Linked DNA regions of Homo sapiens: all the other regions are linked to region 2. The links come from fine-mapping of genetic effects on gene expression. A gene starts in region 2. Each other region holds a variant in brackets. All regions are shown on one strand. Distances are from middle to middle.

Region 1 (9,699 bases), 140 kb after region 2:
GCACAGCCCTTCCTGCCATGCCTGTTGATCCCATCATCAGCCAAGGATGTGTTGGGGCCGTATTCTGCGGCTCCTCCAGCATGGGAAGGTGCTGACAGGAAGCAGCACCAACACCTCCTGGAATAGCCGTTGGCACATGAGCTTCCTGATACTGTTTCATGTGCCTTACATGTGCCACCCATGCAGGGATCAGAGCAGCCCTATGAAGTGGGTACTGTTATTTGTCTTCCCCGTGTCACAGATAGAGATGTTGAGGCACAGAGAGGTTCAGGGACCAACCAGAAGAGGCCAATGTGGGATTTGAACTTGGTTCTGGCCTCAGAGCCTGTACTCTCAACCAGCCTGCTCTGCTCTCAGAAGGGGACAGCGCAGGAAAGGCCAGCTTCAGCCAGGGTGACGGTGGGGGTGGTGCTCAGGGTGGACAGCATTGATTAGAGGTGACTGTTGTCCAATATTCAGCTAAACTGTAGGTTTTAAAGCTTGAGGACAGGTTTCGTTAGAGGTCAAAATTCAGTAGTTCCTTTCCCAAGGATGTAGGGAGAGAACTACGTTTTGTTAAGTGGCTCTTATTGAGCATTGTGACATTCTTTTGCTAAAAACATGTTTGTGCATGTATACACTTGTACTAAGAAAATATCTTCATTTTATTTCCTTTTCCTTTATCATGTGACATAAGATTTATTCACTTCATATCAGCATTTAAGTATTGTCAACTTTATGAAATAATATTTGGGTTGGCGATTGGTTTTGAAATGTGAGGACAGGAGATCTGGGAGGGGTCGGGATGGAATAATATGGTTTGGCTGCGTCCCCACCCAAATCTCATCTTGAATTCCCACATGTTATGGGAGGGACCCTGCGGGAGGCAAGGGGATCATGGGGGCAGGTCTTTCCCATGGTGTTCTCATGGTGGTGGGTGGGTCTCATGAGATCTGATGGTTTTACAAAGAGGAGTTTCCCTGCACAAGCTCTTTCTTTGCCTGCTTCCATCCATATAAGATGTGACTTGCTCCTCCTTGCCTTCTGCCATGATTGTGAGGCCTTACCAGCCATGTGGAACTGTAAGTCCATATTAAACCTCTTTCTTTTGTAAATTCCTCAGTCTCGGGTATGTATTTATCAGCAGTGTGAAAACAAACTAATACAAGGTCTTTCCTAAGTTTGGAAAAACGTGATTTCTCATCTCTTCAAAAACGACTTCCACTCCCCCTCTGCATTCCCTCTAGGTTCCAGTTACATGTGCGTTGGACCCCACGCCTTCCACGCCCCACCCCACTCCCCTGGTATTGATGACTGCCTTCTTCTACTGTCCATTCTGTATTCCCTTTGCCTTCAGCATCACCTCAGCGGGTCGTGGTTTTTTTCCTGGTGGAATGTCCCAAACCTTCATTCCTGAGGGGTCTGGGTCACTTGTAGTCTTGCCTGGATTGGGCTGTTGTAGTTTCCCGTTGACCTTAATCACAAGGCATGGTAATACTATGGGACGCCCTAATGGATCTCCTGTATTCCATGTATACTCTTCCTTAGCTTCGTTGCAGAGTAGTAGACTGATTTCACCTTGATAGACCAGATCAATCACCCCAACAGTGTAACTCCTTTCTTAGCCTATTGACATAAAGGTAGGAGGAGCCCAGAGTATCCAGGTGACAATCTTAACTTCCAGTTCAGTGGGATTGCTGTTTGGTCTCGCGGTGGCAGCATTCTTCCCTCTGGAACTAATAACGCTAGGCCAGCAGAACGTAATGTTGCAGGAACAGGAAGCAAAACTTTTGCTAGTGGATCATTAGGGGTGATGGTGAGTGGTGCCACTTCCACTTCCACCCTTGATTCCCGGACCCGTGAATCCTGGCTATGGGAGAAACAGTATCATATATTGGACGCTGATTCAGAGCATCCATGGCCCTCTGGAGAACTTTGTCCCAGCCCTGCAAAGTATTGCCACCTAGTTGGTGTTGTAATTGTGACTTCAAAAGGCCATTCCACCATTCTGTCAACCCAGCTGCTTCAGGATGATGGGGAACATGGTAAGACCAGTGAATTCCATGAGCATGAGCCCCCTGCCACACTTCTTTAGCCATAAAGTGAGTGCCTTGGTCAGAGGCAATGCTGTGTGGAACACCATGATGGTGGACAAGGCATTCTGTGAGTCCATGGATGGTAGTCTTCACAGAAGCATTGCATGCAGGATAGGCAAACCCATATCTAAAGTAAGTGTCTATTCCAGTGAGGACAAACCTCTGCCCTTCCCATGATGGAAGAGGTCCAATATAATCAACCTGCCACCAGGTAGCTGGCTGACCACTCCAAGGAATGGTGCCATATCAAGGACTCAGTGTTGGTCTCTGCTGCTGGCAAATTGGGCACTCAGCAGTGGCCGTAGCCAGATCAGCCTTGGTGAGCGGAAGCTCATGTTGCCGAGCCCATGGGTACCCTCCATTCCTGCCATCATGGCCACTTTGTTCATGGGCCTATTGGACAATGACAGGGGTGGCTTGGGAAAGAGGCTGAATGGTATCCACAGAAGGGGTCATCCTGTCCACTTGATTATTTAAATGCTCCTCTGCTGAGGTCACCCATTGGTGAGCACTCACATGCGATACAAATATCTTCACAAATTTTGACCACTCAGAGAGGTCTGTCCACATACCTCTTCCCCAGATTTCTTTGTCACAATTTTCCAATCATGCTTCTTCCAAGTCCCTGACCATCCAGCCAAACCATTGGCTACGGCCCATGAATCAGTATATAATCACACATCTGGCCATTTCTCCTTCCAAGCAGAGTGCACAAGCGGGTGCACTGCTTGAAGTTCTGCCCACTGGGAAGATTTCCCTTCACCGCTGTCCTTCAGGAATGTCCTAGAAAGGGGCTGTCATGCTACAGCTGTCCACTTTCGGGTGGTGCCTGCATACCGTGCAGAACCATCTGTGAACCAGGCCCCGGTCTTCTCTTCCTCTGTCAGCTGATCATAGGGAACTTCCCATGAGGCCATCGGTGCAGGCTGGGGGAGAGAAGGGAGGGTGGCGGGAGTGGAGACCATGGGCATTTGAGCCACGTCGTCATGTAACTTACTTGTGCCTTCAGGACTTAATCAAGCCCAATCACATACATGCCACTTCCATTTGATGATGGAATGCTGCTGTGCATGACCCACTTCATGGCTAGATGGGTCAGAAAGCACCCAGTTCATGACATGCAGTTCAGGTCACACGGTGACTTGATGACCCATAGACAAACGTTCAGTTTCCACCAAAGCCCAGTAACAGGCCAAGAGCTGTCTCTCAAAAGGAGAGTAGTTACCTGCAGAAGATGGCAGGGCCTCACTCCAAAATCCTAGAGGCCTCCGCTGTGATTCACCTATGGGGACCTGCCAAAGGCTCCAAACAGCATCCTTATCTGCCACTGACACCTCAAGCACCATTGGATCTGCTGGGTCATATGGCCCAAGTGTCAGAGCAGCTGGCACAGCAGCCTGGACCTGTTGCAGAGCCTACTCCTCTTCTGGACCCCCTCAGTCCTCCATACCCAAAGTCCAGAAAGTTGGGAATCCCAGTGAATCCCTAGCAGCATCAAAAAAATAAAAACTCATACCCAGTCAGATTATAACAAATCAAGAAAACCATAGAGAGCATAGGGGTGTGCCGCAGTCACACTGACAGGCCACCTTCCTGTTCCTGCAGAAATGGTAACCGCAGGGGACGGTGCAGCCGCATCTTCCGTGTCCTTGGAGGAAATGTCAGCATAGGGTCTTACCCGGCAAAACATCTCCTAAGATTGAAGGTGAAATAGACATTTTAACTCAAATGAAAAACAGTAAGTACTAACGGATGTTCTTCAAGCGGAGAGAAAATGATCTCATATGAAGTCAGAGAGGAGAAAGGAATGAGACTCAAGGCAGTTGGGGGAAGCGGGCAAATGGCCATGGGCATTGGTTGTGTAAACCGAGGCACCTCCTGCAGTGTAAAACACGGAGAGAAGTGCGGTTGAGCATGGGGGTGGGTGCGTGTGGAGTGAGCGTTCCAGGGGCCTTGCCGTGCCCGGGAGAGTGAGGGTAACGGACATTCCCACGGGGATATTCCCACGCGGAGAACTGGGACCCCGATCAGGGTCTGGAGGGAGCGTGTGCCCTTGGAATACTGCTGTTTTAGCATTTCTGGGGACCGGGAACTAAGGTAAATTATTTGAAACAGAAGTAGATGGCAATTTCCTAATATAATGGACATTTAAAACTCAATTAAGGCTTTTGAGTAGAGTTTTATATGCCCTGAGCTTTTGTACTGGCAGAAGGTATTTTGTAAACAGCTTGTGTTCAGTGTTGGCCATCTCTTAAAGTGCATTTTACTTTAATTATTCTATATCCATAATGCACATAACCAGTTTCTCCAGAACATGTATACATGAAATGTAATTGAAAAGCTAATGATTTTTAGAAGACAAAAGATAAGAGTCAGAACCATTTTAATTAGGATGCAAACTCCTTACATAATTTAATTGGCATAAAAGTTTATTGATTTACTTGTATAATCATTTATACGTAGAAAAATATAACAAATTTCATAATTAAAACTAGTTATTTTAAGACTGATATTTTTCTTTGTTCATTATTGAAATTTTCAATTTGTGAAATATTTATTATTCAAAAAATAGCATCTGCGTTGCAAATGAATCTCATTTTGAGAGGAAGAGCTCTAGGTGATACAGGTTTAAAATGACTGGTAGGCACCCACAGGGAAACTAGGTTCCTCACACAGCCTCGTTTTTCATGAGACCTGCGGAAAGGCTCTGGGGCGTCACGTCTCCCTGTGGCCGAGGCTGCTGTTGTCTGGCACACCGTGAGTTCTGGGCCAGGACCTTTCCACCTGTCTCCCTCCACTCCGGGTGAAAGAGGCATGGGGAATTTACTTGCTTTTCCTTTTTGTCTGGCATCAGCTCGTGAAATATATTACATCAGACAAAAGTCAATAGAGATTTCCCTTTTGAAAAGCAAGGTCCATGATAATGGGCTGAACACAAGCAGGTGACTGTGTGGGACAGGGCTGCCCAAACCGCCGCTGGCCTACAGACTGCTGTCCC[G/A]GCCAGTGCTCCGCTCCCTGCGCCCCTGATGAGATGGCAGCCCTGGGCACCTGTGGCTGCTCCCTCCTCCTGACTCTGCTCCAAGGTGCCACCTGCCCAAGGTTCCGTCCTAGTCCCTGACCGGCCCCTCCTGTTTCCCCCGTGGCTCCTTGCCCCACTGACTGCTGGCTCTCACCTGCTCCTGTCTCTCCACAGTAGTAGCCTCAGTCCAGTGCTTGACCCTGCCCTTTTCTCTGGCTCCAGCTCCTCCTTGGCAAGCTGAGTCTTCCCCAGCTTTGAGGCCCATCCACATGGTGACCCCCACCGTCACCCAGGCATCTGTCCTCAACTGCAGACCCACAGGTATTCACATGGTGACCCCCACCGTCACCCAGGCACCTGTCCTGAACTGTAGACCCACAGGTATTCACATGGTGACCCCCACCATCACCCAGGCACCTGTCCTGAACTGTAGACCCACAGGTATTCACATGGTGACCCCCACCATCACCCAGGCACCTGTCCTGAACTGTAGACCTAGGTTCAGTCACCTTTGATGCCTCCCTGAGGTGTCTGAAGCTGTTTCAGCCTCTGCAGGTCCATGGCTGGACGCTGTCTCTCCAGAGCCCATCCCAGCTCACATTGGTCTTGGAGGTCCTGTGGATGCTGCCTGGGTGCAGAGCTGAACCTCCCCACTGGGGCTCCTCTGTCATGGCCCCCCTCACCACGCTGCCGTCTTGGGCTCTGGCCATCTGGTCACTCATGTATCTCACATGTCTGAGAACATATGTGGCACAGAGGAAGGAGAAAGTGCCGGGTGCATATTTGTGGAATGTGAGTGGTGACTGAATTCTCTCAGCAAGGGTGGGTGTCCTTAGACCGGCCAATGACTTTGCCCCCGCAGTGTGACAGAGAGCCCAGTGCTGGTAGCAGGCGAGAAGCCAGGACTGCTGGTCACCTTGCCGCCCTCAGATGTACCCCCTTTGGAGAAGCCTGCCGCAGGCTGTTTTACAGGCCATCTCGTTCCATTTCAGTTGCTCCTCACCGTGGTAATCGGAAATGTTAACGGGCGCACTCGTCTGGTGGAATTTATCGTGGCCAGCGAGGGCGATTAAGCGGCTGGTATGTGGCGTGTTTACCCTCGTGTCAGCATGACTGGTGTTCCACCCTGGCAGATGAAGGCCCGGTCCTTCCTGGGCTCCTAATTGGGGACACTACATCCAAGAGCCGTGACAGGGTTCAGCAACCCGCGTGCAGAATGCCGGCTTCCACGGGGCACGCTTTATAAAATGCTCTTTAATTCAGGAACAGAATATCATTAGCTTTGTAAAGTGGATGAATACAATGGACAACCAATTTAATTAACCTCTAGCGTCAGCTGTCGAACAGGAGGCAGAATGAGATTACGTGTGCATCTCTCCCGCCAGCAGCCAGCCGGGAGAGGGGCTCGGCAGGAGGCCAGACAGGGGGACACCTTGGTGCCGTCATCCCGTTTGGCCCCAGGAGCTGAAATTGGAAAGTCAGTGCTTTGTAAATAAGTCAGCTGTCATTTTGTGGTGGTCACGGAGCTCCTCTGAGAGCGGACGGTCACAGCCCCCCGTATGCTGCCTGGGGGTGGCACTGGGGGAAGTGGGCAGTAGTGAGGACGCCGCCTTGTCCAGTTGGGTCAGCCGCCCATGAGTTCATTATACAGGAAAAGATCAATGAAGCGCTACATTGATTTAAACAAAAGCTTTGTTTCATTTATTATTGTTTATAATCTAATGACTGTTATTATAACTTTGCTTTGATTTATTACTCAATCTGTTAAATTGTTTCAAAACAAGGTGTCTTGGGACTTGCCTTTGTGATAGGGTTAAATGTGTGACTTTTGCAAGTGTGTTCAGCTTCTCGGGAGCACCGTGAACCTGTGCCTTGGGTTGTGCTTTGAGACCTGAGCTGAGGGTTCTGTCCAGCGGTCCTGAGCTGCTGCTGCTCAGCCGGGCGCCCAGAGGGTGTGGTGCCTCTCTCATTGCCCAGGAGCCGTGGAATTCCTGCCTGCCGTGACCTGGGCATTGTGGTGGAGGACTCAGAGGCGCCCAGGCCACATGCCTGCCCTCAGGGGGCTTCCCTTCCCTGAAAGAATTTAGATGAGGAAACCAGTGAGTGCTGGAATATGCAGCACCTTGAAGGAAAGGCTGGGGACTGGGACTGCCAAGCCTCTGCCCAGAGTAGCCAATCAAGAGGGCTGCTTGGAGGAGGCTGCATTTCCACAGAGACCTGAAGCAGCAGGGGGTCCATGTGAGAAGCTGGAAAAGGGGAGGCAGCAGAGGTACCCTCCTGACAGAAGGGCGCAGCCTCCTCAGGCCCAGATGGCCAATGGGGCTGGAGCTCTGTCAGCTGGGTGTGTGAGGGCCAGAGGACAGCTGGGGTGGCCACTGTGCAGGACGTGGCTGGGAGGAAGTGCAGTGGCAGGCCCAGAGGTGCATGTGGAAAAGGCCACCTTGGTGCCCGGTGGAGAAGAGACCAAGGGGGCTACAGCTGTGGAGGAGGCGGGGGCCCCACAGGGAGATGAGGGAGGTGGGTGTGCAGCAGTGCAGAGACGTGGAAGGCTAGAGATGGACAGGGTTCTGTAATCCGTAGAACCTGTGGAAGGAAGGGATGTTTGGGTGAGGCATATGGACAAGATGCTGGAGGAATCTGGAGAGATCCGTGGTTTCCAGTGGGAGCTGGAGGAGGGTGAGGGTGGAGTAGGTCTCCAGTCCTGAAAGGTCGGACTTGTCACGGGAGACCCAAGTGGAGACTGTGCAGCCGCCGGGCCAGGAGGCTGGCCTTTAGGAGGCTCCATGCTGTACACACAAGAGCTGCCCGCTGGAAGATGGGACAGACGGGCCACCCCAGCGGGAGGAGGAGGTGGAGGAGAAGGGCTCGTAGGGTACCCTGAGCAGATCCAGAGTGCTGTTATTCCCAAGTAGGAGGAGGAGATCCAGGGAAGGAGAATGTGGAGTCCCGTAGCCTAGAAGTAACAGAGTTTGGAGGAGGGTGGAGGGCGTGAGAAGGTGATGAGACAAATAAATAATTCTGGATTATATTTAAAAATTAAAAATCTACAAAATGAGACAGGAAAATGGGCAAAGGATACAAAGAGTTCACAGAAGAAACTTAAATTGCCAATAATCTTAAAAAGAGATGCGCCAGACACACAGACCATGGAGCAGAGGGGACAGCCAGGAGGCACCCTGCCTGGGCAGCCAGGTGGTCTCTGACAAGGGTGCAAGAGCATTCCATGGGAGAGGACAGCCTCCAGCCAGTGGTGCTGGGACGCTGATACCCACACGCAGAAGAATGAAGTTGGCCCCTCACATTACATTGTGTACAAAGTTAACCCAAAATGAGTCAAAGACCTAAAACTATAAAACTTTTAGAAGAAAACATGGGCCAGAACCTTCACAACATTGGATTTGGCGATGATTTCTCAGACGCAGCACCAAAGGCACAGGCAGCAAAAGAAAAAAGAGACAAATTGGACTGCATTAAAACACAACCACTTTGTACAGCCAAAGACAACATCAACAGAGTAAAAAGGCAACCGTGGAATGGGAGAAAATATTTGCAAATCAAAAATCTGATAAGGAATTACTATCCAGAATATATAGAGAACTCCGAAAACTCAACAACAGCAACAACAAAAACCAACCTGAGTCAGAAAGGGGTTTGAATAGGCGTCTTCCCTCCAAGGACGGCGTGGAGACGGCCGATAAGTACACGAAAAAGCGCCCAGCTCCACGAACCTTTAGGGAGATGCAGATCCAAACTGCCATTTTCATTTGTCAGTTTAAAAGGACTTGCAAAATACCTTATACCCATTAGGATGGCTGTTGTCAAAAAGCGCAGAAGATAGTGAGAGGTGACAGCGTGCTGGCAGTCCTCACAGCCCTCGCTCGCTCTCGGCGCCTGCTCTGCCTGGGCTCCCACTTTGGCGGCACTGGAGGAGCCCTTCAGCCCACCGCTGCACTGTGGGAGCCCCTTTCTGGGCTGGCCAAGGCCAGAGCCGACTCCCTCAGTTTGTAGGGAGGTGTGGAGGGAGAGGCGCTAGCGGGAACCGGGGCTGCGCGTGGCGCTTGCGGGCCAGCTGGATTTCCGGGTGGGCGTGGGCTTGGCGGGCCCCGCACTCCGAGCAGCCGGCCGGCCCTGTGCAATGAGGGGCTTAGCACCCGGGCCAGCAGCTGCGGAGGGTGTACTGGGTCCCCCAGCAGTGCCCACCCACCGGCGCTGCACTCAATTTCTCGCTGGGCCTTAGCTGCCTTCCCGAGGGGCAGGGCTCGGGACCTGCAGCCCGCCATGCCTGAGCCTCCCACCCGCTCCGTGGGCTCCTGTGCGGCCGGAGCCTCCCCGACGAGCTCCGCCCCCTGCTCCAGGGCGCCCAGTCCCATCGACCACCCAAGGGCTTGAGGAGTGCGGGCGCACAGCGCGGGACTGGCAGGCAGCTCCACCTGCAGCCCCAGTGCGGGATCCACCGTGTGAAGCCAGCTGGGCTCCTGAGTCTGGTGGGGACGTGCAGAACCTTTGTATCTAGCTCAGGGATTGTAAACGCACCAATCAGCGCCCTGTCAAAACAGACCACTCGGCTCTACCAATCAGCAGGACGTGGGTGGGGCCAGATAAGAG
Region 2 (9,699 bases):
ATGAATCCATAAGCAAATTGGTTACTGTCTTAAACGAAGTAACAATGTGATATTTAGTGCTGTCCTTTTTAAAAAGCTCGCAATATATTGTTGTCTAATAAAAGTCTTGGGCCGAATTTCCCTCCTGGGAGAACAAGAGCTTTGGGCCAAGTGGCTGACCAGGTTGAAGAGGGTTGGCAGCTGCTGAGGAATTCATCCATGGTAGGAGGAGGAAAATCGGGCAGGCTCTGCTCCCCATCTCCCTCTCTGCTCCTTGCAGACTAGGTGGGCCCAGGATCTCCTTAAGCCAGGTAAGTAGGTCTTTAGGAAACTCGTTATTATTATTATTTTGGCAAAGGAGCAAATACACGGGGCAATATTTCAAGGGTGAAGAAGGGCACACAAGGGAGAGGCATCCTCCCTCTCACCTGGTTTCATGAGTGTGGCTTTTAACACAGGTGACACAAGTGGCCAATGTCTTTCTGAACATAGGAGAGCCAGGCCCCGGGCACAGTGACAGGTCTGCCATGCCCATGCAGCGGTCGGCATGCTGATATGATCTAAGGTGAGGGCCCAGCCAGGTCAGCCGGGAGAAAGTGAACACAGGAAGGGCACACCCAGGACCCCAGGGCCCCAGAACTCAGGTGAGCATGAAGGGAGCCAGCAGAGGAGACTGGGGGTGGTCAGCGCAGTTGGGAGGGAAGAGCAGGAATGCCACAGATGCCAGGGCAAGGCTCACTTCCAAGAGGCAGCCAGTGGTCAACCGTATTGGAAGGTCAGCTGCAATCAGGCCTGGGGGGCTGGCCCTTGAATTAGGATGCCCCATGGGGTGTGGGCATGAGAAGCACAATTCGAGGGCCTGGACAAGAGTGGTCCATTGGCATGCGGGGCAGAGATGGGCAGACTTTTAGGACAAGGTTTGCAGCAAGGAGAGCAGAGAGGGGGGAGGAAAATGGAGGGGCACAGGCTGGAGGCTTCCAGAGATCTGAGAGACCGCAGCATGCTTGTGAACTGCCGACGTGACCCAGGAGGGGGTGGCCTTGGGCGGGGACAGGCACCTCATTCCATGTAGCAGCATGGAGGATGTGCAGGACAGACACCAGATGCTGGATGTGTTGACTTAGTGGCGTGATCACAGTCAGAATCCAAATGGAGTCACTGGTATTAAAAACCCTGACATATAGACTGTGGAAGGGCATGAAGGGAGGGTTCTTATGCAGACATGCTTGATAGCAAGAACAATCACAAAAGACTGCAAAAATCACAGCCGTGCACAAAGACCATCACAACTTACACACACAAACACTTCTGGGAAGACATCTGCCCAGTAGCTGCCTGTCCAGCCTCAGACTGGCACCATCCTTCCTGGAGATCCTTGTAGCCAAGGATCATTGATTCAAAACAATGATGTAATCCTCCTGTTTCCTTTGAAAATCTTTGTCTTCCTTTACCTTCCTTGACCCACACCCAATTTACGATGGCACACATATTCTATTGCAATGAATGTTCCCGAGTAAATCTCATTTTCTTTTAGAGAGCCTCTCTCTGTTATTTAGGGTGACAGTGGGAAAATCCCAGACTGCAAATCCTTCCTCAACAAAGGGCAAACGTTTCCTCCAGGGAGCGTAGTTGGTGGTTAGAGAAGGGGAAGGCTGCAGTGGCCTCTTGGAGTGGTGGAGTGCACATGCGCAGAGCCAGGAGGCCTAGTGCTCAACGTGGGTGTGCCTGAGACCTGGGAGATGCCAGGGGCATGGAAATAAGGTGTTGTCTAGTTTTTCCCCCAATTTAGTTTTCTCTAATTTGGGCGCAGGTTCACTGTAAGCAAGTAAATCAGTCCTGGGGGCCAGCTGGGTGAGTGCTGGGGGGCAGGGAGAGGGGAGGGAGTGGGTACACAAAGTGATTCTACCCTCAGAGAGAAGCAGAGTAAGGCAGGAAGAAGAGGTGTGCACATGCGTGGTCATGTGTGCACGTGTGCATGTTCGTGCATGCGCATGTGCAGATGTGTGTGCGTGCAAGTGCATGCGTGTGCATGTGTTTCTGTGTGGGTGTGCACGTGTGGCGGTGGCTAACGAAGGCATGGGAGCAGCATGGGCTGTAGGTTTCCATGAGGTCCCACGGAAGTGAAACCAAAGGAGAGGAGGTGGTGGGGAGGGCAAGGTGCCTGGATTCGGCCTTGGTGTGGTCATTGGTGATGAGAACATCCAGGCTATGCCCAGGGCCGTGGATGCAGAAGTGGGAGGTCCAGGCCGCACCCCCTTGGGTTCTGGAGGTTCTGGTAATGAGCACGGAATATAGGAGGCAGGAGAACTGTGAGGGGCTGAACCTGTGGTGGGTGAGGGGTGCATGGGAAAGAGGAGGTGGCTGCCTGGAGGAAGGGCAGAGGCCAACGTCCAGGCATGGCAGGAGCTGGCTGGCGAGGAGAGGAGGAGGGGGGAGCAGGGAGGGCACAAGGGGTGGGGGACGCTGCCTCAGCCGGGTGTGAGGGCACAGCCTGCGGGGAGAAGTGAGGAGGCAATGTCCCTTCTCAGAAAGCACGTTCCAGGGATCAGTGACACCCCCACATTTGGTTTCTACTAAGGGTACCCTTAGCATGTGCTGATTTTGTTAAAAAGAAAAATAAGCGACTACATCAGTCAGCTTCAGCTGCTGTAGCGAAATATCACAGGCTGGGAGGCTGAAACAAGACTTTTACTTCTCACAGTTCTGGGGGCTGGAAATCCAAGATCAAGTTCCAGCAGCGTTGGATTTCTGGTGCAGGGTTTGTGGCTGGCTGGGGTGAAGCTTCCCACTGTGCACTCACACTGCCACTTCTTTTGCACATGTAAGGGTGGGGACAGCACTGAGCCCTTTCTATTAAACACTAGCCCTATTGCACGACTTAACATTAAACACCAGCCCTACTGCACGACTTAACATTAATTACCCCCGCTAGCCCACCTCCGAATACAGTCACATTGGAGGTTAGGGCTTCAACCCATGAATTTGCGGGGTGGGGTGGGGTGGGGCGGGCGGAATTCAGTCTGTAGCAGGCACCTACTGACTAAAGTAGACATTGGTTTATACATCAAATGGATTTTGCTGGAGTCCTGCTCAGCGGTGGCCGTAAGGAGGAACCCTGGGGGTGTTAACACAAGCCAGTGATGCGGCCTCAGCACAGGCCTGGGGCCCGAGCCTGCAGCACCATTCCTGCCGCCCCGCCCTGGCAGCAGGTGTCTTCCTAGAACAGAACAAGCCCCTTTTGATGTCATTGGGCATTGCCTTGGCGGTTTACTCAGAAGCTGGAGGCTAGCCTCGCTAGAGCCCATTGCCAGGCCCTGACCGCCCCTAAATCTGTGTCCACAAAATCCTCCGGAGTGCCTGCTCCGCATGGTGGCCACTGGCCACACAGGGCTGCTGAGCACTGGAAGCGGCCTTGTGAGCTGCTGCCAAGAGGCAGGTGCCCGTGCAAAGCCTTCCTGTGAAGGAATCTCACTGAGGTTGTTAAATTCTGGTTACATGTTGAATGATGTATCTATCTATTGGGTTAAGTAAAACGTATTGTTAACTTTGGCTATTACTTGTTACCTTTAAAAAATGTAGCTACTGGAAGCTTTAAGATGACAAATGTGGTTCTCCTCCTCCATCTACAGGCATGTCCCGGTTCACGGCGGCTGTGTCCCCGCGGCCTCAGACCCAGGGTCCAGCCCATGCTCTGGCCCCTCCGGCGGCCAGGATCAGCATCGCTGCCCCGGGGCCCGCGCCGAGCCGGCTGCTCCTCCGTGCTCTGCGCTCCTGGGCCCGCACCAGCCCCCTCCCCTGGAGCCCCCTTCGTCCCTGCGAGGGTTCCCTGCACGCCCCGCGCTGAGACCCAGCCTGGCCCGGGCCGGAGCCCTCCGCGACGTCAGGATGCGCCTGGCCTCACGCCGCCTCCCCTCCGTCTTCTCTGGGCCGCAGCCGCTCCTCGTGAGTGAGGTCGCGGCCAGGGAGCCGGGTGGACGCGCCGGGAAGCTGCACGGTCCACGCTCCGTCTGCGCGGAGAGCCGGGCGCGCGTGGCCCGGCCCCTGCAGGCGCGACTGCCGCCGCCCCGGTGGGCTCCCCTCCCCCGCACGCCCGGCACGCGGCTGGACGACTGCGGCCGCGCGGGGGCTGGAACATCCCCTCAGAGCCGCAAGAGAGCGCACCCGCCGCCGGCGCCCGGAACCCAGGGCCCCTTTAAGAGGCGCCGCCGGAGCAGGGCCGTGACGTCATAGAAGTGCGAAGGGCGGAGTCTGTGCGCAGCCGCGGCGCGGGGGGCGGGGCGGGGGCGCGGCGTTCTTGCGGGCCTGACTGACAGGAGCGCCCTCCGGGAGCGACCAGTACTAGGCCGCCGGTCGCAAGAGCGCCCCGCGTAGGCCCCGCCCCGAAAGGAGGCCCCGCCCCGGGGCAGGCCCCGCCTCCACAAGGACACCAAGTCCCGCACAAGCCACGCCCCCCGCAGGCCCCGCCCCACTCTGTTCAGATCTAGGCCCAACTCAGGCTCCGCACCTCAAGGCTCCGCCCCCAGCAAGGCTCCGCCCCAGGCCCGGCTCCACCCCGCACAGGCCCCACCCCGAGTCAGGCTCCGCCCCGCCCAGGCCCCGCCCCGGGCTCGGCTCCGCGGGGCGGGACTTGCCCTCAGCCTGAGTCGGCGGCGGCTGCGGGAACTTTCCCAGCGGATCTAATGGCTGCGCGCGGGCCGCTGTGAGGCGCGGCGGCGAGCGACGGGCGCGGGGCCGCGGAGCAGCGAGCGAGCGAGCGAGCGCGAGGCCGGAGCCCCGGCCAGGCCCGGCCGACCCGCCGAGCCCGCGATGCGCCCCGGGGCCGCCCCCCGGCGCAGCTGACGCCCCGCGGCCCCGCGAAGACCCCGGCCGGCCGGTCCCGGAGGAAGCGGCCGCCGCCGCCGCCGCCCAGCCCAGCGCCCGCGCCGCCCGGGCACCATGGCGGGGAAGGCGGCCGCCCCGGGCACCGCGGTGCTGCTGGTCACGGCCAACGTGGGCTCGCTCTTCGACGACGTAAGTCCCCCGTGCCGGCGGCAGGCCCCAAGCCCGGAACCCCCGACCCTGACCCCGGGGTCCCGAACTGCAAGCCTTGGACCCTGGACCGTGAACCTCCAGACCCAGAGGCCCCAGACTCTGATCCCTGTACCCGGGACCCCAGACTCCTGTCCTGATTCCCAAGTCTGGGAGCCCAGACCCCTGTCTTGATCCCCAAGCCCGAGACCTGAAGACCTGGGCCCTGAATCCCCGAACCCCATCCTCCAGACTCCAGCAGCTGACCGTTGACCCTGGGACCCTGCCTCTGAACTCCTGTCTGCAAATCCTGACCTCGAAACTCCAATATTAAAACCCTGTCAGAACCCCTGTTAACAGTTCCTGGAACCCAAACCCCAGAAACCGGGTCTGTGCGCACCAAACCCAGCCCCAGCCCTGATTTCCGAATCCTCAGAACCCTGGCCCTGGAATGCCCATCCCCAACCCTGGCCCTGAACCCCAGGTCCATGGTCACTGGAACCACAAATCCTGACTGCAGAACTCTGGTTACAGAACCTGCTCTCAAACGTCTGTCTCTGGTCCCTGAGCCCTGGACCCCAAACCCTGAAACATAACCACAAACCCTAACCCAGGAACTTCTGACACAGGGCTGTGGCCCCAACCTCCTGTCCCTGTTCCCCAATCACTGAATTCTAGCCCTAGAATCCCAGCCTTCATACTGTGGCCCTTTGCCTCTAAAGCCAATCTAGCCTGACTCTGAACCCTGAATTTCAACCTCAGGCCCCAGCTTATGGCCCTGAACACTTGTCCTTGACCCCTGAACCTGGAACCCTGGTTCCAGAATCAGGCCCCAAACCCAATTCTGGACCCTGCCCCTAACTCTGGTTCCTAGATCCCATCCTTGGCCCCTTCCTCCAACAAGCTCCTGCCCCTGAATCCTGAATCCTGAATCCTGGTCTTAAAGCCTGGGCCTTGAGCCTGCAGAATTCCCAAACCCTAACCCTTGACTCCCACCCCTGGCCCCTGTCCTCTGAGCCTAGGCCCTCCACTCTGGCTGTCAGCCCCAGCTCCTGGATGCCTGGGTGCCGGCCTCACTGTCTGTCTGTCCCTGCAGGGCCAGAGGGTAGGGTGCCCCCATTTAACCCTGCCACTTAGTATCTCTTTAGTTCGTAAATAAGGGAAGTCTGTAAAGCACTGTAGGACTTTATATTTCTTGTTTATTGAAGAAAAAGATGCTGAGAAGCTCTTCAGGGCCAGAAAGGGGATGCTGACTGCCTATGGCCTTTACCTTCTAGGGCCCCTCCCACCCAAGCCTCATTCCCACCCAGGATCCCAGGGTGCCCCCATCTCTGGAGAGACCAGGGAGCTGAGGCCCAGGGCGCACTGGGAGCTCCCCAGAGGCAGGCCGGTCTGACCTAGTTTGGCGTTTCAGCCACGGTGCCACCCTGCTGTTGGTACTCCTGCTGCCAACCCAAATAAAGCAGAGTGAGGCTCCAAGTGGCCCAGATGGAGGCCGTGGAGCCACGGACGCTCCCTCCCTCCCTCCCTCCCTCCCTAGGTGAACAGTGGGGCACCGCACCAGCTTTATGACGGATGTGTGCCACTGATGCACGCGTGGTTTCCATTTCAGGAGGAGGTCTTGTGTCTTTGCTGGCAGCAAGCATGGGTGAAGTGTTTGATGAAGCTCAGTTCATGCACAGGCTAGGTTTGGTTTTTATTAACAAAAGGCGCTGTTTTTCTGTTTTTCTTATTTTAACTTCCAGGTGCCCATGTATTATACTGACCTGCTGGGGAGGAACTGGTTTTCCTCACACTTTATTATTAACAACTTCATCTAGGTTTATGTTTGATCATTTTCTACAAAAGTGCCTGGCATGGGTGTGTGTCTGTATATTTGGCGTTCTATTCTAGGCTTTCCAGTAACATGTCACTATAGCATGGTTTTGTTCAGATGATTCAGATCCGTTAGCTGCGGCTTCAAAGCCTCAGAAATGTCAGGAGCATTAAGCTTGCTGGGGCATTTTAGTCTCAAAGGGAAACGAGTTTTACTGTGCAGACATTCTTTCCAGTAATCTTTGATTCTGAGTTCTAGCATTTTTGTTGTGTTTCAATTGTATACACGTATTTATCTCTGTTGATATTAAATTGGGTAACTTAATTCACTTTTGTTTAGCAACCTATTCTCTCTGAATTTTCATTTTTCTTAAAGGCTATGTGGAATTTTGCATTATGTTTATGTTTAGAAGGAACATTTGTTTAGGTCAACAGTACATAGGTTAATTCTGAAAGGTGCATTGTGATTTCAGGGCTGAGTGGAAACTTATCTGTCCGTGTCTGAAGATTTCTTAATGTGTGCAGCTCAGTCCCCGGGGGCCAGACCCAGTCTCCTTCAGTGGAAACCAGCCAGGCACTCACATTCCCAGGCCCCCTTCCTTGGTTGAGGTTTGGGGTGTGGTACTTGTGGGCCAGAAGCCTGGCCGGTGGAAGGAAATTCATGAGTGAAGGAAGTTTTGGTTTCTTGGTTTGTCCTGGATTTCAGGGGACCTGCTTTGAGATTCTGTTTGCCTTTGTGCAGCCCGTCCCGTGCTGACGAACGCACCCTGCAGGCAGTGCTCAGGCTGTGAAGGAATCTTTCTCGCCCAGTCTCACCGTGTTGGAAGCCAAGCTCGTCTGTGACCAGTGCTGGAGCCGGTCACAGTTCCGAGGAGGAAGGTGTTTGAATCTGAAGCAGATATCCCGGACTGTGGCGGACTCTGTTTTCCTTTTGTGCACAAGTGATAGGTGGTTTGCTTTTGCTTTTGCAGTTTTGAAAGTCTCCCCTCTTAAGGCCCCTCCTCCTCCCCCTCTTGTTTTTGTTTTAGACAGGGTCTCATTCTGTCGCCCAGGCTAGAGTGCTGTAGTGGTGCGGTCACAACTCACTGCAGCCTCGACCGCCCTGACTCAGGTGAACCTCAGCATCCTAAGTAGCTGGGACCACAGGCACATGCCACCATGCCTAGCTAATTTTTGTAGAGACCAGGTTTCGCCGTGTTGTCCGGGCTGGTCTGGAACTCCTGGGCCCAAGCAATCCACCTGCCTCGGCTTCCCAAAGTGCTGGGATTACAGGTGTGAGCCACTGTCCCTGGTCCAGAGGTCACCCCTCTCAAAACGCTGCGTGCATCCACTTCAGCTGTGGTTTGTAGCATCCTGGGATCCACACGGAATCTCACTCAGCAGCCCCTGTTTGCTCATCACTACTCCATCTTTGTGACCCCAGATTGGCCATGCTGCGGGCTGCGGGGCTGTCCCCACTGGGGTTGTGTCTGACCCTGTGCAGACAGTGTTGCGGTAAATGCCTTACAGTGTACCGGTCCCCAAGCCCTTATCCCTCACTTTCCTAGAAATTATGGAGGACCCGAAAGAGTTCTTGTTTATGTTGGTTATAACTACCAATATTTCTCATATTGGGAGCTGAGACTGCATGAGAATACATAGCTCACTGCACTAGCTGGCAGAGCGATTACATCATCCCACATCACAGGCACCCCCTCAGGTGTTGGCCGTTCTTCCCTAGGAGACAGTGAGAATGGAAAGAGGAGTCATTTTGTAGTATTATGGAAATAGTGTTGACCTAGTCAACCTGTGAAAAGGCCTCCTCAGCCCAGTCCTCCCTCCCCATACTGTCATGGGCACCCCTGTCTCTGGCCAGGTGGCTGGGGTGCCTGGGACTTTCCCAGGCTTATGCAGACTGCCAGATCACCCTCGGTGAGCCCTGCAGCTGGTCTTTAATTCCTGGATTGGACTCCTGCTGTCACTACTGGTTTGCTTGGAAAGAGGTGACCAGGGGTCCATATTTAATTGTTTTGCTTTGATGTGGCTGGTTTTTTGACAAGTGAGGTTTCTGGCTTTTGGTTCCTTCCATTTTTATGAGAAGGGAATTGAGGAGGTGAATTCTTGCCAGCTGTGGCGTCCCACCCTTGCATGGTCAGGCTGCTGTTTGGTCCTGAGAACACAGCCCGCTGGCGGGTATCTGCCTGGTGGCCCTTCCTGCTGCTTGTTCGCAGCTAAGTCAGTTCTGAGCCAGTTTGCCTTTTTGCTTAGTCAGCTCCCGGGCAGCCCTGTCCCTCTGCCCAGACCCGGGTTTGCAGAACGGCTGTGAGAGTGGGCTCGGCAAGTGCTCGCTGGCAGGGACCTGAGCACCTTGCAGTCAGCAGGTGTTGAAGAGCCCTGGAAGAGCGTGGAGGTGGCGGAGCTGCTGTGGGTATGGAGTCGGTGATGGTCAGTGGTGCAGGCTGGCGTCTCTCTCTGGTAGCATCAGCATTGCCTTCTTTGCCATGTGGTTCCTGGCAACACCAAAGGTACTGCCCTCTCTCCCACCTTGAAAACTCTGAACTCCATGTTTCCTCCAGCCACTGCGGGGCATCCTGACTCTCTACCGTGGCAGCCCTCGAGTGGGGTGGGGGGGTCTCCCCTCCATGTCCTTCTCCAGGCCTCTGCCCCAGCACTCCTGCACAGCAGGGCCCAGGGCTGGGTGCGGGTTGTACCCAGCTGGCAGTGACTAGCCAGAATTTTTGCTCCCTCTGTGGATCCTCCTTCTTCTTCAGGGACGTTTCACTTGGTAATGGCTGTGCTGGGACAGAATTCGCACACCATGCCCCTCACCCATTTCTTTTTCCTTTTCTTTTTTGTTTTCACACAGGGTCTCATTCTGTCACCCAGGCTGGAGTGCGGTGGCTCACTGTAGCCTTGAAC
Region 3 (9,699 bases), 780 kb after region 2:
GCCGTGGTCATCCGCACTCACACCCCTCGGGGCCGTGTCTGTACCTCCTGCAGCCGTCGGCCGTGCTCACACATCATGCAGCCCTGGCTTTCCTTTTGTCCTGGTTGGTTGTGCGCATATGAACTTGATGACAAAGCTGTTGATTAACATGTTCCTGCCTAGAGTGCACTCTGGGAAATACTTCCAGGAACAATCTTTTTTTTTTTTTGAGACAGGGTCTTGCTCTGACACCCAGGCTGGAGTGTAGTGGTGTGATGTAGGTTCACTGCAACCTCCACTTCTCAGGCTCAAGCGATTCTCCCACTTCAGCCTCCTAAAGTGCTAGGACTACCAACACGCATCGCCGCACTCGGCAAAATTTTCTATTTTTTGTAGAGACAGGGTCTTGCTATGTTGCCCAGTCTGGTCGTGAACTCCTGGGCTCAAGCCGTCCATCTGCCTCAGCCTCCCAAAGTGCTGAGATTGTAGGTATGAGCTACCATGTCCAGCCGGAACAATTTTTAAATTGTGTTATATTTCTTCTTTTTTTAACTGATGAGGTGAACTTTCATAATCATCTACAATTTTATTGATCAGAGTTTTTCAGACTCTACATTTTCTCAAGTAGTAATTTGCTCTTTAAAATAAAAGAACTGGGAGAACCCACTGCAATGTGGGAGGCTTTACAAAGACTTACGTGTAAAGTAATTGTCTCCTTTCCGAGGGATCATTTTAAGGAGAAAAACCGTGCAATGCTGGATTAAGACATTCGTATTATGGAAGAGACTAGTTTATAGTCTCTGGTTAACTTTAGCAAATTTCTCACACTCATAAAAAGACCCGTGGCACCGTTGGCACCATAAAAATACTATTTTCAAAAAAAAGTATGATTGTTACAGTTAAGTTTATAAGATGCAGACTCTATTATATAAACAATGGCCTTGCTGTAATCATTCTCCTTTTCCCAGTATCTTAAACCACACTATAAAATCAGACTATGCCAAAATAGTAAGAAAATATGCTACTTACAGGGAAATCCAGTTTCTTTCTTGCATGTTCATTTCTGGGGAACACAGGGGCTGTGGGAGCCGTGCAGGGCAGTTACTCACTGCTCTCTCCCCGCAGCCCAGCCTCAGCAGAAGCCCCAGGGGACAGTGGAGAGCGGTCAGAAGGGGAGGCCATGGAAATCTGCTCTGAGCCTGTGGCAGCCTCCCCTGCACCGGCAGGTGAGAGGCGGATCTACAGACATAGGTCAGTGTCTGAGCTCTTTCTGAAACCCGTTCTCAACATGTGTTCGGTGCTGAGGATTCTGGGCTGCACCTGGGCCGCAGCTCTTCTCATACTGAATTCAGAAAGGTAACGCTGGGTAAGAAAATCGGCTTCCGCCAGAGAAGAAAGTCCAGATATCTCAGGTCCTGTGAATAACTTAGTTTCTCTCGCATACTCTGTTTTTGAGCCATTGAAGCGCAGGAATGCCAAGCACCACTCACTTTTCCTCATTGTCTGAGTGGGATGGAAAGAGTCTCACTTGCAGTTGCTTCAGTCACAACCCAGGCGTCTGCCTTAATAGCATCACCTGTGCCGTCTGCGTTTCTAGCGTCACCTGTGCCGTCTGCGTTTCTAGCGTCACCTGTGCCGTCTGCCTTCCTAGCATGACCTGTGCCGTCTGCCTTTCTAGCATGACCTGTACTGTCTGCCTTTCTAGCGTCACCTGTGCCGTCTGCCTTTCTAGTTAAAGTTGATTTTAAATTAATTTGGGAAAAACGGTGAACAAGTGGGGAAAAACATCACCAAAGACTCCAAACAGGTGGAACGATGAACTTAATGTTCCCTGCACCCTCCTTACAGATGCCTGGACTTTGGCCTGTGAATGAGCCCCGGGGGGCTGGGACAGTAGGGGTTTTCATGGAATGGACATGGGGTAGCAGGAAGTCTCAGCCCCAGAGGGCTTGGCAGGAGCCGCCCTCTCTGCGGAGTTCTTCCCAGCGGGTGTGCGTTGGTGGCTGGCGGGGACCCCCCACAGGAACTAGGTCTCAGGCTGTGGAAAGGGAGCTGCCCCAGGGCCCAGGAGGGCCGGCTCTGCATTCCGCATGTTCCCAGAGTGAAAGAGAATGAGAAGGAGACACACAAGTGCTGTTATGACCTGGGTTGTTGGTTGGCAAATACAGCATCTAATAGAAACTTTCTTCCATCCCAGAATACCCTCTACCATCTGCTTTGGTCAGGGTGCCGCTCGAGGATTTAAAAGCAACAAGAAGAAAACCAAACAATGCTGATAGACTCAGAAAAGGAGTGGGGGGCAGTCACCACTGCTGGGCGTGGCATCCGCCTTGGGCCTTTCTCCGACCTTCTGGTGTGGCCGCCCTGGGGGCCAGGCCCTCGCCATCCTCCCCATCCTTGTTCCTCAGCAAATGGCATTAGCAGCTGTCATCAGAAGCTGTGAGGGACCCACAGATTTTGGAAACGACCTGGACACACTATTGGGAAGGAGATGTGGACGGCCTGTCTCCTCCTGCAGGGCCCACCCTAAGAATGTATTTTTAAACACATGAAATAAGTATTTTTCACTGATGGTCTTGAGTCTTCATTTCTGTGTTGAGTCAGGTGCGGAGTGGTTATTGTTACCCATGGGTATTCTGTTTTCCACCCTCAGTTTTCAGGAAGATTTATAAAGTCCTGGCACCCCTCAGAGGTGGGTGATGGGGTAGGATACAGCACTCCACCTCGTCCCGGACCTCCTGGCTTTGGGAGCCACACCCAGTTGTCCTTGCCACACCACTTAGGGAGTAGACCTGGTGGGGGTAGGATCTGATGCCCACAGGGAGGGGCACTGGCTCTGGGGGCATGGGGTGCTTGGGGGTGTGTGGGATGCTGGGGGAGTGGGGGGTGCTGCCCCAGAGGGTGCAGGATCCATCACTAGTGCCAGCGGGGACCACAGAGCCTGCATCAGGAAATGCAGGCCAGGAGATTGGGGCTGGCATTGGATTGCAGAGATACACTGGGGGCAGTGTGTCCTGGAGAAATCACTCTGTTTTGATAAAATTAGGGCGCTCAGAGACTCCCGACCACGTCTTCCTCCAGCGGCCCTGTTCCCACAGCATGTGATATAGGCGGCAAGCCACCCAGGTGCCAAGGCAAGAGAACGAGGGCACGAGCTGTTCCAGTATAACAAATATATAAAATAACAGGAGTTATACTAGATATATGTCATAGATATGATTATATATGTATCACTAATCATTAGTTTGTAGTAATTATTCTTTATTCCAATATTATAATAATCCTCACTCTACAATCATAACCTAGGAAAAACCAGGCCATACGGAAATAGGAGCTGAGGGGACATAGTGAGAAGTGACCAGAAGACAAGAGTGTGAGCCTTCTGTCATGCCCGGACAGGGCCACCAGAGGGCTCCTTGGTCTAGCGGTGACGCCAGCGTCTGGGAAGATGCCCGTCGCCAAGCGGACCGTAGTCTAGTGGTAACGTCAGTGCAAAGGAAAAGCACCTGCTACTTAGCAGACTGGGAGAGGGAGTCTCCCTTTCCCTGGGGGAGTTTAGAGAAGACTCTACTCCTCCACCTCTTGTGGAAGGCCTGATATCAGTCAGGCCCGCCCGCAGCCATCTGGAGGCCTAACCGTCTCCCTGTGATGCTGTGCTTCAGTGGTCACACTCCTAGTCCGCTTTCATGTTCCATTCTGTACACCTGGCTCTGCACTTTAGATAGCAGTAGCAAAATTAGTGAAAGTACTAAAAGTCTCTGATATGCAGAAGTAATGGCGTAAGCTGCCTCTCTCTCT[C/T]TGCCTCTCTGCCTTGGCTGCCAAATGACGAAGGGCCCCCTGTCCAGTGGACACGTGACACACGTGACCTTACCTATCATTGGAGATGACTCACACTCTTTACCCTGCCCCCTTGTCTTCTATCCAATAAAAGTGCAGCCTGGCATTCTGGGCCGCTACCGGTCTCCGCGTCTTGGTGGTAGTGGTCCCCCGGGCCCAGCTGTCTTTTATCTCTTTGTCTTGCGTCTTTATTTCTACGATCTCTTGTCTCTGCACACGGGGAGAAAAACACACAGACCCTGTGGGGCTGGTCCCTTCATGTGACTGGTGTGCTCCTGGCCCCCTGCCCCTGGCATTGCCTCACAGCCCACTCCTTTTGGGGCTCTGGGTCTGGCTGGAGGCAGTGGGTGGTCATCTGCAGCTGCTGCCCAGCTCCACAGGATGATGCTGAGAGCTCTCCAGCAACCTGGAGTCAAGGAATCTCAAGGGCCTCAGGTTCAGAGCTGACATGGCACAGTGCTTCGTGCTCTGAAAACTGAAGGCAGGTTCCCAAGCACTCAAGGGAAGACACTAAAGCCTGAAGCCCAGGCCTGGGTGCATCAGTGAAGAGAGGTTTCACACGCACATGTGTGGGGTGGGAGATGAGCACTGGCCGAGGGTGGCTGTGGTGGGGCCGCCCGGGGCCTGTCGGCTGCTTGAGAAAGCACAACACAAGAAAAATGCAAACACGCAGATTTACTGCTGGTTCTCCATCTCCCTGAGAAGATCCTGCCCCAGCCCGTTGAATCCTCTGGCTCTTGCGTGAGCTCCCTGCACAAGGCCAGCAGCACAGCCCTGGCGGCAGCGCTCCACGAGGATGTATTAGCCCTTTCCACAACAGCAGATTCTGCTAAAACTCTTTTGTTCACAGCAGGACTGTTCTATACCCTTCGGGGACTGTTGGTCCTGGCTTCCAATCCTAGCTTCATCTCTGCCTGGAAGCGATTTGTTTATTCTGTCTCAGTTTTTCTTCTGACAAGTGGGGAGTGTAAAACTTCGGTATGAAGAATGTTACTGTTTTGTTTCAAAGCCAGCATCATAACTGTACGTGGGCTGCATCCGTTTCTAAGAAGATACTCATGTTTCTTTTCTTTCTTTCTTCTTTTTTTTTTTTTTTTTTTTTTTTTTTTTTTTTGAGGCAGGCTCGCTCTTCTTGCCCAGGCTGGAGTGCAGTGGCATCATCCTGGCTCACTGCAACCTCTGCCCCCTGAGTTCAAGCGATTCTCCTGCCTCAGCCTCCTGAGTAGCTGGAATTACAGACACACAACATCGTACCCAGCTACTTTTTGTATTTTTAGTAGATACAGGGTTTCACTATGTTGGCCAGGCTGGTCTCGAACTCCTGACCTCAGGTGATCTGCCTGCCTCAGCCTCCCAAAGTGCTGGGATTACAGTCATGAGCCACCACGCCCGGCAGAGATGCTCGTGTTTCAGCTGCAAGACCTGTGAGAGCTGAAGCCAGCTGGACTTCCTGGGTCGAGTGGGGACTTGGAGAACTTTTGTGTAGCTAGCTAGAGGTTTGTAAAATGCACCAATCAGGGCTCTGTAAAAATGCACCAATCAATGCTCTGTAGCTAGCTAGAAGTGTTTAAAATGGGCCAATCAGCACACTGTAAAATGGACCAATCAACACCCTGTAAAATGGACCAGTCAGCGGGACATGGGCAGGGACAAATAAGGGAATAAAAGCTGCCCCTTCCAACACACACACACAACCCCCTCCGCCACCCAGCCAGCAGTGGTGACCCTCTGCTGTTCACAATAACTTTTGCTGCTGCTCACTCTTTGGGTCCATGCCATCTTTAAGAGCTGTAACACTCACCACGAAGATCCGCAGTTCCATTCTTGAAGTCAGCAAGACCACGAACCCACTGGAAGGAACCAACTCCCGACACACCTGGAAGTGGCTTCCAGGTTGCAGCTGTCAAGAGGACTCAGACAAGGCACAGGATGGAACAACTGCACTCCCCAGACACAGAGACGGAAAGGCCACACACCCCCAAGACATAGAGATGGAAAGGCCACACACCCCGAAGACATAGAGATGGAAAGGCCACACCCCCCTCCCTGGACACAGAGATGGAAAGGTCGCACCCCCCTACCAAACACAGAATGGAACAGCCACACCCCCGCTTAGGACACAGAGATAGGAAGGCCGCACCACCCCTCCCCCCGACCTGGACACAGAGATGGAAAGACCACACTCCCCAAGACACAGAGATGGAAAGACCATACCCCCCCAGGACACAGCGATGGAAAGACCACCCCCCCCCCCCCCCCCCCCACACACACACACACACACAAACAGATGGAAAGACTGCACCCTGCCACAGGACACAGAGATGGAAAGACCACACCCACCCCCCAGACACAGAGATGGAAAGACCACCCCCGCAAGACACAGAGATGGAAAGACCGCACCCCCCCAGACAGAGAGATGGAAAGACCACACCCCCCACAACAGGACACAGAGATGGAAAGACCACACCCACCCCAGACAAAGAGATGGAAAGACTGCACCCCCCACCAACACAGAGATGGAAAGACTGTATCCCCAAACACAGAGATGGAAAGACCGCACCCCCCCTCCCCCAGGACACAGAGATGGAAAGACCACACCCCCTCCAGACGCAGAGATGGAAAGACCACACCCCCCCCAGACGCAGAGATGGAAAAACCGCACCCCGCCACACACAGAGATGGAAAGACTGCACCCCCCCTTCCCAAGGACACAGAGATGGAAAGACCGCACCCCACCCCAGACACACAGATGGAAAGGCCTCACCCCCCCAGGACACAGAGATGGAAAGACCACACCCTCCCTCCCCCAGGACACAGAGATGGAAAGGCCGCACCGCCCCCAGGACACAGAGATGGGAAGACCACACCCCCCCCCAGACACACAGATGGAAAGGCCTCACCCCCCCAGGACACAGAGATGGAAAGACCACACCCCCCCTCCCCCAGGACACAGAGATGGAAAGACCACACCCCCCCAGGACACAGAGATGGAAAGACCACACACCCCCTCCCCCAGGACACAGAGATGGAAAGACCACAACCCCCATCCCCCAGGACACAGAGATGGAAAGACCACACCCCCCACACACACAGAGATGGAAAGACCACACCCCCCCCAGACACAGAGATGGAAAGACCACACACCCCCCCCAGACACAGAGATGGAAAGACCACACCTCCCCCCCAGACACAGAGATGGAAAGACCACACCCCCCCCCCCCAGACACAGAGATGGAAAGACCACACCCCCCCCCCCAGACACAGAGATGGAAAGACCACACCCCCCCCCCCAGACACAGAGATGGAAAGACCACACACCCCGCCCAGACACAGAGATGGAAAGACCACACACCCCCAGACACAGAGATGGAAAGACCACACACCCCCCCCCCCCCAGACACAGAGATGGAAAGACCACACCTCCCCCCCAGACACAGAGATGGAAAGACCACACCCCCCCCCCAGACACAGAGATGGAAAGACCACACCCCCCCCAGACACAGAGATGGAAAGACCACACCCCCCCCCAGACACAGAGATGGAAAGACCACACCTCCCCCCCAGACACAGAGATGGAAAGACCACACCCCCCCCCCCAGACACAGAGATGGAAAGACCACACCCCCCCCCAGACACAGAGATGGAAAGACCACACCCCCCCCCAGACACAGAGATGGAAAGACCACACACCCCGCCCAGACACAGAGATGGAAAGACCACACCCCCCCCAGACACAGAGATGGAAAGACCACACACCCCCAGACACAGAGATGGAAAGACCACACACCCCCCCCAGACACAGAGATGGAAAGACCACACACCCCCAGACACAGAGATGGAAAGACCACACCCCCCCCCCAGACACAGAGATGGAAAGACCACACCTCCCCCCCAGACACAGAGATGGAAAGACCACACCCCCCCCCCCAGACACAGAGATGGAAAGACCACACCCCCCCCCAGACACAGAGATGGAAAGACCACACCCCACCCCCCGAGGACACAGAGATGGAAAGACTACACCTGCCCCCCAGACACAGAGATGGAAAGACCACACCCCCCACCCCCCTCCCCCCGGACGCAGAGATGGAAAGATGGCCGCATCCCCGGGAACACGCACAGGTGGAGAGGCCAGGGCCCAGCTGTGCATGGACGACTCCGAGCTGAAGTGCAGCCGTGGGTGCCAGTGCCGGTCTCCGTCCTCCTTCACAGGAAACACGGAGGCCGGGGCCGCCAACCCCGGTCCCTTCATCCTCTGGCCCCTTCGCCCGCTCCTCACACGGACGGGCTGTGCCTGTGTCTGCTCCACTGGCAGCCGGTCGATACCCCCGGGCGTGCGGAGATGAAGACCTCAGGCGACCGACCGCCGTCCTCCCCTTTCCCCGCGGCCCAGGTCGGCGTGTCTGGCTGCAGCGCCACCTCCTGGAGGCGTCAGCACCCTTCTCCGCTGGGTGTCAGTTCGGACACTGTGGAGGGACGCGCTTGGAGGATGTGGGCGGCCCCGCGCGGAGCGGTGCAGAGTCGGCGGTTGTGGTGGTCCTGGCCCAGCATCCAGGCCTCGCATTGCCAGGGGCAGGCGGCTGGGAGCCTGTGGGAGGAGGTGTGGGAGCAGGGCAGGGGTCCCCAGAGATCCTCCCGGTTCCAGCCACCCTGCGCGAAGGTAAGGCCTCTGCCGCGGGCCTCAGTTTACCCATCTGTAGATGAGCAGGTGACGGGTGAGCTCCAAGAATTAGCCAGATTTGAAGCCCAGTGCTGGGAACACGGTGGACACATTCCTTGACTCCTACTGTCCCCCTTGCCCCTCTCTGCCTCTCATGCTCATACACGTGCACACTCAGATGATCCACTCCCCCTCCTCTCTGTATGTGCGTCCCTGCTCACACACGCTCACACTCACACAATCCACGCCCCTCCTCTCTGTGCATCTGTGCTCACACTCACACGCTCACACACACAATCCATGCACCTCCTCTATGTGCGTCCATACGCTCACACTAACACACACACAATCCACACCCCTTCTCTTTGTATATGCATCTGTGCTCACACTCACACACTCATACGCTCACACACACACAATCCACACCCCCTCCTCTCTGTGCGTCCGTGCTCACATACTCACATGCTCACACTAACACATGCTAACACACAATGCACACCCCCTCCTGTCTGTGTGTCCGTGTTCACACGCTCACACACGTCATCCACACTCCCTCCTCTCAGTACGTCTGTGCTCATACCCTCACACACTCACACTAACACACGCACTCTCACACACACAATCCATGCCCCCTCCTCTCTGTACGTGCGTCCATGCTCGCACACAGGGAAGCCAGAGGCCCTTCCACCCCCATCCTGTTGGCTCTCACGTGGGCTGTGTGGATCTGGAAACCTAAATTCCTGATTTTGATCATTGCATGAAGGTTCCGTAAGAAGACGCCCTTGTTTGCAGGGAATCCACACTCAAGTATATACGGATAAAGAGGTCACTTCCTCTGAATGCAAGGAGTTGCCAGGCCGGGTGGGGAGGGTGGGACTTACGGCAGCTCCAGGAGCCCCTGGGCCCTTCTCATCTCCCATCTGGCTCCAGGGGAATGGGAGATGCCCGTCCCTGGGGCAGAGCTCACCCCTCCTCAGGCCCCACCCCCCACTCCCCACTCAGATGCCCCATTCACTCATTGGCTCAGAAAAAAAGGTAGTAGGTAGCAGCTAAAGAGACGACAGATTATTGATAGATGATAGACAATAGACGATAGGTGATAGATGATAGATAATAGATAATAGACAATAGATAGTAGGTGATAGATAGTGGACGATAGGTGATAGATAATAGATAATAGACAATAGACATTAGGTGATAGTAGACGATAGGTGATAGATGAT

The links. PIP is the estimated chance that this variant, and not a neighbour inherited with it, causes the effect.
Region 1: its variant is the best candidate, but not a certain one, in a credible set for the expression of INPP5A in whole blood (INTERVAL, PIP 0.75).
Region 3: its variant is the best candidate, but not a certain one, in a credible set for the expression of INPP5A in spinal cord (GTEx, PIP 0.75).

The regions. Positions count from the first base shown.
Region 1 is chr10:132,671,547-132,681,245 of GRCh38, forward strand. The region is part of intron 4 of INPP5A (inositol polyphosphate-5-phosphatase A); the gene reads left to right. Among named protein-coding and RNA genes, the nearest start is that of NKX6-2, 110 kb to the right of the region's middle. The variant G/A (reference allele first, on the strand shown) is at 5,074.
Region 2 is chr10:132,533,183-132,542,881 of GRCh38, forward strand. INPP5A (inositol polyphosphate-5-phosphatase A) reads left to right here and starts at 4,605. Exons shown (of 16, transcript NM_005539.5): 1 at 4,605-4,989. The coding sequence starts at 4,915. LOC107984282 (a long non-coding RNA gene) reads right to left here and starts at 3,741. Exons shown (of 4, transcript NR_158224.1): 1 at 3,544-3,741. RefSeq lists a silencer at 3,626-4,725 and enhancers at 5,506-5,555, 7,562-8,096, 8,097-8,631, 8,392-8,551, 8,562-8,691.
Region 3 is chr10:133,310,612-133,320,310 of GRCh38, forward strand. ZNF511-PRAP1 (ZNF511-PRAP1 readthrough) reads left to right here. Exons shown (of 9, transcript NM_001396060.1): 5 at 1,105-1,230. ZNF511 (zinc finger protein 511) reads left to right here. Exons shown (of 6, transcript NM_145806.4): 5 at 1,105-1,230; 6 at 2,177-2,550. The coding sequence ends at 2,255. It also overlaps a transcript of TUBGCP2 not described here. Among named protein-coding and RNA genes, the nearest start is that of ZNF511-PRAP1, 6.5 kb to the left of the region's middle. RefSeq lists enhancers at 3,456-3,725, 3,732-4,233, 7,931-8,160. The variant C/T (reference allele first, on the strand shown) is at 3,778.